Linked DNA regions of Homo sapiens: all the other regions are linked to region 4. The links come from fine-mapping of genetic effects on gene expression. A gene starts in region 4. Each other region holds a variant in brackets. All regions are shown on one strand. Distances are from middle to middle.

The links. PIP is the estimated chance that this variant, and not a neighbour inherited with it, causes the effect.
Region 1: its variant is the best candidate, but not a certain one, in a credible set for the expression of TKFC in whole blood (TOPMed, PIP 0.81).
Region 2: its variant is the best candidate, but not a certain one, in a credible set for the expression of TKFC in whole blood (TOPMed, PIP 0.88).
Region 3: its variant is the best candidate, but not a certain one, in a credible set for the expression of TKFC in whole blood (INTERVAL, PIP 0.67).

What each region holds. Positions count from the first base shown.
Region 1 is chr11:61,374,405-61,377,089 of GRCh38, reverse strand. It overlaps a transcript of TMEM138 not described here. Among named protein-coding and RNA genes, the nearest start is that of TMEM138, 13 kb to the right of the region's middle. The variant G/A (reference allele first, on the strand shown) is at 1,619.
Region 2 is chr11:61,524,350-61,527,034 of GRCh38, reverse strand. SYT7 (synaptotagmin 7) reads left to right here. Exons shown (of 13, transcript NM_001365809.2): 10 at 2,503-2,672. Among named protein-coding and RNA genes, the nearest start is that of LRRC10B, 17 kb to the right of the region's middle. The variant C/T (reference allele first, on the strand shown) is at 1,151.
Region 3 is chr11:61,417,485-61,420,169 of GRCh38, reverse strand. It overlaps CPSF7 (cleavage and polyadenylation specific factor 7), which reads left to right. Exons shown (of 10, transcript NM_001142565.3): 5 at 76-221. Among named protein-coding and RNA genes, the nearest start is that of CPSF7, 11 kb to the left of the region's middle. The variant C/T (reference allele first, on the strand shown) is at 1,326.
Region 4 is chr11:61,331,969-61,334,617 of GRCh38, reverse strand. It overlaps TKFC (triokinase and FMN cyclase), which reads right to left and starts at 1,390. Exons shown (of 18, transcript NM_015533.4): 1 at 1,289-1,390. DDB1 (damage specific DNA binding protein 1) reads left to right here and starts at 1,513. Exons shown (of 27, transcript NM_001923.5): 1 at 1,513-1,710. The coding sequence starts at 1,650. RefSeq lists enhancers at 906-1,428, 1,429-1,951 and a silencer at 1,251-1,510.

The DNA of each region.
Region 1 (2,685 bases), 42 kb before region 4:
TAAAGGAGGCAATCAGATATGCATTTGTCTCAGTGAGCAGAGCAGTGACTTTGATTAGAATGGGAGGCAAGCTTGCCCCAAGCAGTTCCCAGCTTGACTTTTGCCTTTAGCTGAGTGATTTGGGGGCCCAAGATATTTTCCTTTCACATTTCCTCCCCTTTCTTTTTAAAAATCTTTTAGAGAAAGCATTTTAGAAAAAAATGAGTCTCTTGTCTCATGTTTTATCTTATCTCTCATGGCTAGGATGGTTTATTTCTAGACGAGTAGGTCCTGAGTTATTAGGAAAACTCATTTTTAGAAGGTTGTGAAGTGTCATGTCCCATAAAGACAAAATAGGGGGAGGAAGGGAGAACAACAACAAACAAAAGAACAATCCTGGAAAATTGCTATAAGCCACATTACTCTGAAGTCCATACATCGGTAGGCAGGTATGAAAGTGGCTTATGTATGTAAATAGGTTGCTGTTATTTTTCTTCTGAAGTTGTCTAGATTCAGTTTGCAGGGCTTTATGAAAGCACAGCTTAGTTTTCAGTGACTCCAAATTGGAAAAAAATGGAAAAAAGAAGAAAAAAATGAAAACATTATTTTGAAGACTTGTAGTCAAGAAAAATTAGAATTCGGTCCAAACTGTAGAAAATAATAAAATTGAAAAACATTAGGCAAGACAAGAATCTAACAACAGGTGTGCTATAGTTTTTGAAACAATTTTTCTCTTTCCAGTTTTCCATTATTTTTTTTTTTGAGACAGAGTCTTGCTCTGTCATCCAGGCTGGAGTGCAGTGGCGTGATCTCAGTTCACTGCAACCTCCACCTCCTGGGTTCAAGTGATTATCCCACCTCAGCCTCCTGAGTAGCTGGAATTACAGGCATGCACCATCACACCTGGCTACATTTTGTATTTTTAGTAGGGATGGGGTTTCACCATGTTGGCCAGGCTGGTGTTGAATTCCTGACCTCAGGTGATCCGCCTGCCTTGGCCTCTCAAAGTGCTAGGATTATAGGCATGAGCTACCGCATCTGGCCGAATAATTATTTTTTACATAGGCTTTTAAATTGGCTTTGATGAAACTTTGTTCCATAGAAAGAATCTCAGATAAGACTTTTTAAAAGCCGAGCCCAGCCGTGGATTTGTGCCATCAAATACCTATGAATTGCATGATCCTCTCCTCTTGAGGTTCCAAGATAAACTTGGGACTCCTGGGCCTGTCAGAAAGTGACGTGCTTTACTTGCCACAGGTCAGAAACCTTGGACAGCGGCTGTGTGGACAAAGGTATGGGGCCAGTTTTTCCAAGGGGCTTTTATTGGCTCCATAAAGTCAAATTTGATTGCTTAAAGGAAAGCACACCATTCCAGTAAAAGCCTTGGTAAAATAACCAGTTTCTCCAATTGTGTCCTGTTACAAACGAAAACAGATTCTTATTGCACTTATGCAAATAACAGTATTGTCATAAGTTAAGAATACTCACAGCTGGGTGGAGTGGCTAATGCCTGTAATCCCAGCACTTTGGGAGGCTGAGGTGGGTGGATCGCCTGAGGTCAGGAGTTTGAGACCAGCCTGGCCAACATAGTGAAACACCATCTCTACTAAAAATACAAAAATTAGCCAGGCATGGTGGC[G/A]CATGCCTGTAGTCCCAGCTACTTGGGAGGCTGAGGCAGGAGAATGGTTTGAACCTGCGAGTCAGAGGTTGTGGTGAGCTGAGATCACACCACTGCACTCCAGCCTGGGCAAAAAGAGTGAAACTCCATCTCAAAAAAAAAAAAAAAAAAAAAAGAATACTCACAAATAATCTCCAAATTCTGGAGAAATCAGAGAAAAACAAATATGCTGCAAATTTTGTTCATAGGAGTATACTCAATTGTTAAAGCTATAAATAGCTTAAAAGTTTTCTTGACTCTGAAAAACAAAACACAGGATCAGCAACATTTTAAGTGTAAAGTTAAAAAGATCACTTCAGACACCTATTAGTTTAGTCCATGCAATTAATTCCTGTTCTGCTTCATTTTTCATGAACATTTCAGTTCTCCATGAGTCGTGAAAGTTTTTCCTCTATTCTGATGTGACAGTCTCTAAAGTTATCAGAAACCTTATTCAGGGGCACCTATTAGAGTTTGTTTGTTTGTTTGTTTGTTTTTGAGATGGAGTCTAGCTCTGACACCAGGCTGAAGTTCAGTGGCGCGATCTCAGCTCACTGCAGCCTCCGCCTCCCAGGTTCAAGCAATTCTCCTGCCTCAGCCTCCTGAGTAGCTGAATAGCTGGGATTACAGGCACCTGCCACCACGCCCAGCTAATTTTTGTATTTTTAGTAGAGACAGGGTTTCACCTTGTTGGCCAGGATGGTTCTCAATCTCCTGACATCATGATCTGCCCACCTTGGCCTCCCAAAGTGCTGGAATTACAGGTGTGAGTCACCACGCCTGGCCTAGAGTTTTATAGCTGATTATAAAACCACCTTCTAAAGAGGACCAAAGCAAAACAACAATTGTCCATGGATGACAAAATGTTTTAGGGCAGCTATAGTCAAAGACAAAACTGACAAGGAAATTTGTTACCTCTGTGGCACATAATAATTTAACATAACAGTTATAATTATTACCGATAATGTACATTAAGTCATATCAGAATTATAGGAGTTTCCAGGGCCAGTGGCAGTGGCTCGTACCTGTAATCCCAGTACTTTGGGAGG
Region 2 (2,685 bases), 190 kb before region 4:
GGTGCCAGGACCCCGCTTAGACAAACCGTAACCCTTTGCCAATGGCCCCCGGTTCAACCAGGGAGAGTAAATCCCTACCCCAGCTGCCCCAAGCCCTAGCCTTCCAGAATCTTCACCGTGTACCCCAGGGACCTTTCCCCACCTGCCTTCCCAGCCACTTAGCACCCCACCTCTTCTGCAAGATGACAGCCAGGTCACCCACTAAATGGCACTGAGGGTGAGCAGTGAGTGTCCATGTGTTTCTGGACGCCCTCCTTTGCAGGCACCATGAGGGCCCGTTTAGAGATAGCTCAACCAGCAAGAGGTTCAGCTGTCTGGAGGTATATGTAGGCAGCTGGCAGGGCGAAGTTTTTGAGCAGAACTCCAATCCTCCGGTCTCTTCCACGAGCATGTACCCAGCAACAGCCATGAGCTGGGCACTCTTCTACGTACTGGGGATGTAGAAAAGAATGAGGCACCATTATGGCCCTCAGGGCATTTCTGGCCTAATGGAGACCCAGATGTGTAGATAACTCAGCCACACACAGCATGACAGGAGCTGCAGGAAGCCAGTATGAGCTCCCTTTGGTGGTGCTGAAGAACATTTCCCAGAAGAGGGGCCATTCAAAATGGGTTCTGATGGATGAGTAGGAGTTTGCCAGCTAGGAGCCTGCCTCCTCTGGTGTTGATGAGAGCTGACTGGGGTGCAGTGACCTCTTGGAGCTTCCAATATTCCCAGAACACTTGTCCTCATGCATTTTACCTAAATTGATGCCAAGGGTCCCCTGGGCAAGGTCCCTGGGAGGCTCTGAAATAAGCAAGACACAGCTTCCCACAATATGAGGAAAGGGACCCTGAACAAATTCAGAGTCTCCTCTTCCAGCTCACCTGCTCCTGTCAGAGCTCCTCGGTGCTTCCAGAGTCTCTGGGGGAAGGTGCTGGAATCTTCTAGAGCTCCTCCTTCCCTTCATCTTCTGCACCAGCCAGGCTGAGGTTCCAGGCGTCCTCCTTCCTGCTCATACCTGGTTTCAGAATCTCCTCACCTCAGGCCTCCAGGCTGGCCTGTGCCCCCCGGCACCTCCTGGGCCAGTCCCACCTCTGACTAAGCCTCCAAAGAGCTAATGACTCCTGGCTTCAGACCTTCACCTGGCCCCCTCTTCCCTTCTGCATC[C/T]CATCCAAGCCCCTTCTGCTCCTCTCCCTCTGACCTTAGCGGACACCTCACCTCAGCACAGTCCTGCTGCTCCATCAGGCCATTTCATTGGCATTGATTCATCTGTTCAATTATGCATTCACTTAACAAATATGTATTGAGTGCCTACTATGTGCCAGAAGCGGTGTTAGGCACCGAGAGCCAGTGGTTGGTAACAGAGAGGCCTTTGTGGGAATCCTTGCCTTCCGGGAGAGCCAGACAAAAATCAGGGAAAGAGACAGAGAAATCTATTACCGCGTGTGTTATGTTTTGCGGAAAAAAAGGTGCTAGAGCGGATAATGGGATCCGACACTCTCTGGGGTGCCAGGAAAGAATGCTGAGACCTGAAGGATGAGAGTAGCCAGGAGGGGGGTCATGATGGGGCCAGTGTGCGCCCGGCCCTGAGGCGGGAGGAGTCGGGGTGTTGAAGGGCCAGGAAGGAGGCCGATGTGGCTGGAGCCCAGTCATTGAGTGAAGAGAGGTCACAAGCCAAGCAGGGAGAGGACAGCCGGGCCAAATTGTGGAAGGACTTGAAGCCAAGGTAGGGTGCCCGGCTTTTATTCTAAGTGCACTGGGAGCCATTGAAAGGCTTTAAGCAGGAGCATATCATGATGGAATTTCTATTTTTAAAAGGTCTCTCTGGCTGCCGCATTGAGAATGGACGGTAGGAGAAAGCGTGGATGCGGGGAGGGCGGTTTGGAGACACTTGCAGCTGCCTAGGCAAGAGGTGCCAGCGGCTCGGATGAGGGAGGTGGCAGTAGAGAAGGGGACGCTGCGGTAGGAAGGATGGAAGCACAGGCAGGAGGAGAGGGGTGTGGAGTCACAGGACACTTGTCACCTCCTGCTTCTGTGCCTTTGCCTTTTCCCTCCCACCGATGCTTCCCCATGTCCCTCTGCCCTGAGTCCTGGGGCCTGCGTACTGGCAGCTGTGGCCACCTAGACAGAGCCACTTGCCCAGACCCGCCTCGGGACGATTGGCAGAGGCTGCTCAGCCACTGAGATGGACACAAGGTGCATGGGTGAATGGATGATCGCAGTTCTACTCTTTACTAGCTGGGAGTCTGGGCAAGTACTTTAAGCCGTCTGAGCCTCATCTGTAAGATGGACGAGATGCCATTCACCTTGGAGAATTGTTGAGGGAATCCCATGAGACGGTGACAGTTCTTGCTAGCACTTCAGTAAGGTCTAATTGCAATCCGGTGTGCCTGCTGGCCCGGTGGGGTGGCAGCGGGAGGGCACAGGGCCTGCCTCCTCTTCCCAGGGCCTTCCTTGCCTCCCGGGCCCCGTGCAGCCCCTCTGTCCCCCTCTTCACTCACACTCATCTATACCCCCAGGTTTTCCCTATGAGAAGGTGGTGCAGAGGATCCTCTACCTCCAAGTCCTGGACTATGACCGCTTCAGCCGCAACGACCCCATTGGGGAGGTGTCCATCCCCCTTAACAAGGTGGACCTGACCCAGATGCAGACCTTCTGGAAGGATCTGAAGCCATGCAGCGATGGGAGTGTAAGGCCCCATG
Region 3 (2,685 bases), 86 kb before region 4:
AAGTGGAAGAGAATTTCTTTTTTCTTCTCTTGGCTGTCTACAGATTTCATTCATTTTTAATTTTTCTTTCCTAAGGTATGCTGAGGTGGTGGTAGCCTCTGAAAACTCTGTCCACAAATTGTTGGAACTCCTACCAGGGAAAGTTCTTAATGGAGAAAAAGTGGACGTGAGGCCGGCCACCCGGCAGAACCTGTCACAGTTTGAGGCACAGGCTCGGAAACGTGAGTGTGTCCGAGTCCCAAGAGGGGGTACGTGGAGACCATCTGTATGAGGGGGGGGTGTTTGTGGGTTTGTTTTCTATGGTGTAGGCTTAGCCTACAGTGTGGGTGAGTTTGGGGGAGGGTGATGGTGGTTGTGAGTGGTGTCATGGTCGACAAGTAGTCCTCAGAATAGGTCTATATAGAAGAAAGAGCATTGTGCTGGGAGTCAAGTAGGTTCAGGTTGTAGTTTGGTTCTGCCACTGACTCGTGTGACCTTGGCCAAGTCACTTTACTACTTAGGGCCTGTTTCCCCATCTGGACTAGTGACATGATGTTTAAAGTTCCATCACCTCTAAATTCTGTGTTTCTGTCTAAAACTTGGCATTAGGTGAATGGGCTTAATTTTTAAGACATGCCTCTCTATAAATTATCAAGAAGCAGCCACCCTAAAATGTAACTAAAAGGTGCCTATAATCTTTTCATAAACGTTGATTGGAAGGATACTGTAAGGAATCAACCAAGAGGAGTGTTGGAGAATAAGACTTGAACAATATTTCTCCAGCATTGTCCAGGGGAGAGGGTGCTCTTTTGATTACCAAATGTTTTAGTCTGCTTGGCAGTTATATCCCATTAGTAAAGAAAGTTACAGGCCGGGCGCGGTGGCTCACGCCTATAATCCCAGCACTTTGAGAGGCCGAGGTGGGTGGATCACGAGGTCAAGAGTTTGAGACCAGCCTGGCCAACATGGTGAAACCCCATCTCTACTAAGAATACAAAAATTAGCCGGGTGTGGGTGACACATGCCTGTAATCCCAGCTACACGGGAGACTGAGGCAGGAGAATTGCTTGACCCCGGGAGACGGAGGTTGCTGTGAGCTGAGATCAGACCACTGCACTCCAGCCTGGGCAACAGAGCAAGACTCCATCTTGGAGGGAAAATAAAAAAGTTAGGGGCTGGGCATGGTGGCTCACACCTGTAATCCCAGTGCTTTGGAAGGCTGAGGCGGGCAGATACCTGAGGTCAGGAGTTCGAGACCAGCCTGGGCAACATGGCAAAACCCTGTCTTTACTAAAAATACAAAACTTAACCAGTTATGGTGGCACATGCTTATAATCTCAGCTACT[C/T]GGGAGTCTGAGGCAGGTGAATCTCTTGAATCCAGGAGGTGGAGGTTGCAGTGACCTGAGATTGCACCACTGCCTTCCAGCCTGGGTGACAGAGTGAGACTCTGTCTCAAAAAAAAAAAAGAAAAAAGAAAGTTACCTCAGAACTACCTTAGTTTGAGGACAGTTTCCCCAATGTCCATCTTACTCTCTTTATTCTGACTGTACTCACTAAGCCACTTTCTGATGCTAATTTGGTTTCCCAATTAGGGTCTCCTACTAGGAAGAGAATTCGCTGACCAGCCGACACAAGTATTCTGGTCTGCTTGGCAATTACATTTCTCATTGTAAATTAATAAATTGGTGTTATGGTTTATGAATCAGTCTCTTGTGAGTTTGGTTAGCATGAATCAGTCTCCTAGGGCCTAGTCACCCCAGTTGAAGCAAGTTTCTGAACCTGAGAAACCTGAGGACTAGACCTTGGATTTTCCTGACCTCATAAAGTGCAGCCACCCTGCAAGACCTTCCCTGAGACAGCCAACCACCCTTATTTTCTTTTGCTACAGTGGGAGGAACAGCAAAGTTTCATCACTGATGTTCTGTCACTGCTTAGGTCCAGCTCTCAAAATAGTGCCTTGTATTGATTGGGTGTATCCTCCAGGTAGAAATAGGACCACTTTGCTCTTGCATAGGAACAGCTGTTCTTTTAACTAGATTGACAGCCTAGATAGATTTGGTGTGAACTCTTGTTGTTCCATGTTAGAAAGGACACACTCTTCTTCCTTGACAAGTTGTATTTTCAAGTCCCCTCTGTTTTGGAGTCTTTCTGTAATTCACCCCTGACTTTCCTTAGGTATGTAATTTTACAACTGTATTGGGGGTAACGTTCTACTTCTACTCAGCTACTTTTCATGTTACTTTTTTTTGCTGAAAAGATTGTGTAACTGAGTGCTGTTTTTCTGCTCTGTCATGCTGATGGACCTGGGCTCTGTTAATTCACTAAGTAAAGCTGGTGGACTTCCTCTGCATAGAAATGTTGCGTCTTTTGGGACTTGTAGCCATAGATACAAAACAACCTTTGCAGATGTGACAACAGTAGTAGCTGGGAAAGTGGTTAACTGTCAGATGACACTTGCCTTATACCTTTTTGTTCTTCAGTTTGAGAGAACTCTAGGAAAGAGCCAGTTGCCATGTGTTTGAGACCTGAAGAACAAGACAGCACTGGCACTGTTCTGTAAGAGAAATCTAGGTGGTTGTCAACATAATTGATTCCACCTTAGGCTTTACTCAGGAGCTGGGATTAACTATCATATTCTAGTTTAAGGAGCACTCTTTCCTCCACACTTGCTGCCAGTGGCATCTTTCTATCTCCAAGACCCCCCCA
Region 4 (2,649 bases):
GCAGGAGTGGGTAACGATACAAGCTGCGGAAGGAACTCGCAGTCGACTGGCACAATCACGCCTTCAGCACCCTAGTAATTAGGGAGCTGCCCCAGACTTCGGTCCAAGTCCAAACTCTAGTACATGGGCTACGGATGGAGAAGAGTGTGGGGCTGACCAAGGTTCATGCCTGCACTTCACTGCCAGAAGACAGATCAATCCATGTCAAGCACAGGTCTGCCTTTATGTCCAGGAACAGCACCCACTTCATCACTAAAGGACAGTGATCCTCAGAATAACTATCTTTTACACGGGCATCACATGCAGCGAAAAAGTTAACAAAGCTCGTCACACGCTTGCCCTCACTGGCCTTGGCACCAAAAGGGAAGGGAATGGGGGGAGCTAGCCAGGTTTGTGACCCATTTTACTTCTGGGAAACAGACTCAGAGAGCTCTAGGGACTTGTCCAAGGTAATACAGGTAACAGCCAGAATCTAAACCAATGTCTAGTTTTTCTACAGAGTGTGTTTTTACTACTGATAATTCAGTGCCTCCAAAGTCAGGCAGAGTCTCTGCTATGGGAAAGGCAAGATGTAAACCACGATGACTTTCTAGCTTTTCCTCAGTTCAGCCTGGTTCAGCAGCGTGTTGGCCTCTGTGTGGGTGCACAATAGGAAGAATCAACATAGCTCTGCCTCAGCCTACTTGGGGTTGTGGGGAGGGTCTTAGGTAAACCAATTCCTCCCTAAGCCTCAGCTTCCTCATCTGTAAAATGGGGGTTGGCTCCTCTCTGGCATTCTGCGAGTGTGCCAAGCCACGTGGTATTCCTCTTGTTCCCGGGGAGCCTGTTTGATGTGGGGTACCCTGGAGGCTGCAGGGCTGACGGCTCTCCTGGCTCATTAAGGTTCCCTACGGAGAAATACTGGTTTTGTGTTTGAGGTTCGAATTTGTAGAGCAATAGGGGCACTAATAACGTTGGGCAAGCAGACCGGTGGGCCCTTTGAAGTCTGAAGAATCAACGCGCAAAAGGGAGGAGGTGAGCAGGTGGTCGTTCAAACGTCAGGCGAGGGCACCAGCTGGATCTGGAGGAACTGAGACAGTGAAAGGAAAGCAGGCAAGGTTCTAGTCTGGGATATGCACGAATCGCGGTCTCCCTTCCCTCTCTATGCCTCCGCAGTCCTTCCCGTTCCCAAAGGAGGAACAGCCCGAGGGCTCCTGGAGCAACGGAAGGAGGACTGGATGCGGGGAAGGGCAAAGGGCGCGGAACGGGGTGGGGAGTCTGCGGGCGAGCTCGGAGGACACTGGCGCACCTCCCCCGCCGGCTCACGGCCGCATCCGCCACATCCGAAGGCGCCGCGACTTCCCGGAGACCCCGAAGCGTGCGCTCTCATCCGGGTCCTGCGGGCGCTGGCGGAAAGAGGCGAGGCGGTGCCTCCGGGGGCGGGGCCTCCTTCGGTTGGCGGCCTCGGGCTTCGGGAGTCCTCCAAGAGGCCAGGTGAGGCCGTCCCGTGATGCCCCGCGCCCCGGCCGCTCTGGCCTGCAACGTGTCTCTGGGGCGGAGGCAGCGGCAGTGGAGTTCGCTGCGCGCTGTTGGGGGCCACCTGTCTTTTCGCTTGTGTCCCTCTTTCTAGTGTCGCGCTCGAGTCCCGACGGGCCGCTCCAAGCCTCGACATGTCGTACAACTACGTGGTAACGGCCCAGAAGCCCACCGCCGTGAACGGCTGCGTGACCGGTGAGGCTGCCGGGGCCGGAGACCCCGGCGAGTGAGGGAGTTGGGGGGAGCCGCGGCCTAGGGAGGCCCGCCGCCCCGGGGGCGGCCGGGCAGGAGTGGGCCCGGCGAATGGAAGGCGCTGGCGGCCGAGGAACCTCCCCCAGCACCGCGACCTCGAAAGAGTCGTCCCTGTACGCGCTTTTTGGGGGTTGGAAGCCGCTCTCGAGGGTCCCCTTTCGTCCTGGGGAGGTCATTCGGCCTCGAGAACAGGGCGGGCCCAGTGAGACAGAGGAGTGTGAGTTGGTTGTGCGGTGTCGTTTGGGCCCGGAGATTGGCTTTCTGTGGCCAGGAAAAGGGGAGGTGGTAATGACGACTTTGGGGTCAAGATTTTCCTGTGGGGAAGTCTGGGGGGCCCAGGAGGTGGAGGGATGTGAGGAATGCCCGCATTATCCCACAGAGGGAGAGGAGCCCTCTTCAGGCTAACCCCTTTGCCTGGGGCTGTTGTTTACATGAGGGCCCTGCTGGAGAAGAGGGTTTGGTTTGCCTGGCCCAGTGCTGGGTTTGCCTTGTTGACGATGCGCTTGGATTGTTAAGGACACCGATGTTCAGAACCCGGGAAGAGTCATCTTAACCCACATTCTCAGCTGAATATGCAGACCCCAAGCTTGCATGTTTATATACACCCTAATCATGATTCCAAAACAAAACTGTTGTTCAGAGTTGGAGGTAGCTGAGTGTGGATGGAGGTATTGGTAGACTGCCAGGAGGGCAGGGGGTGTGGACAAAACAGTGTTTTCATATAAAGCTCTGGGACTTCTTCATTTGACTTGGTCTGTCAGATAAAAGTTTTGTGAGACTTTAGATGAAGACTGGAAGAAGTGAACACTTTCTCCGGCATTCTCAATTAGAGCCTGCCACTGTAACTGTAATAGAGTAAAATTGGAGGGGCAAGAGGCATGA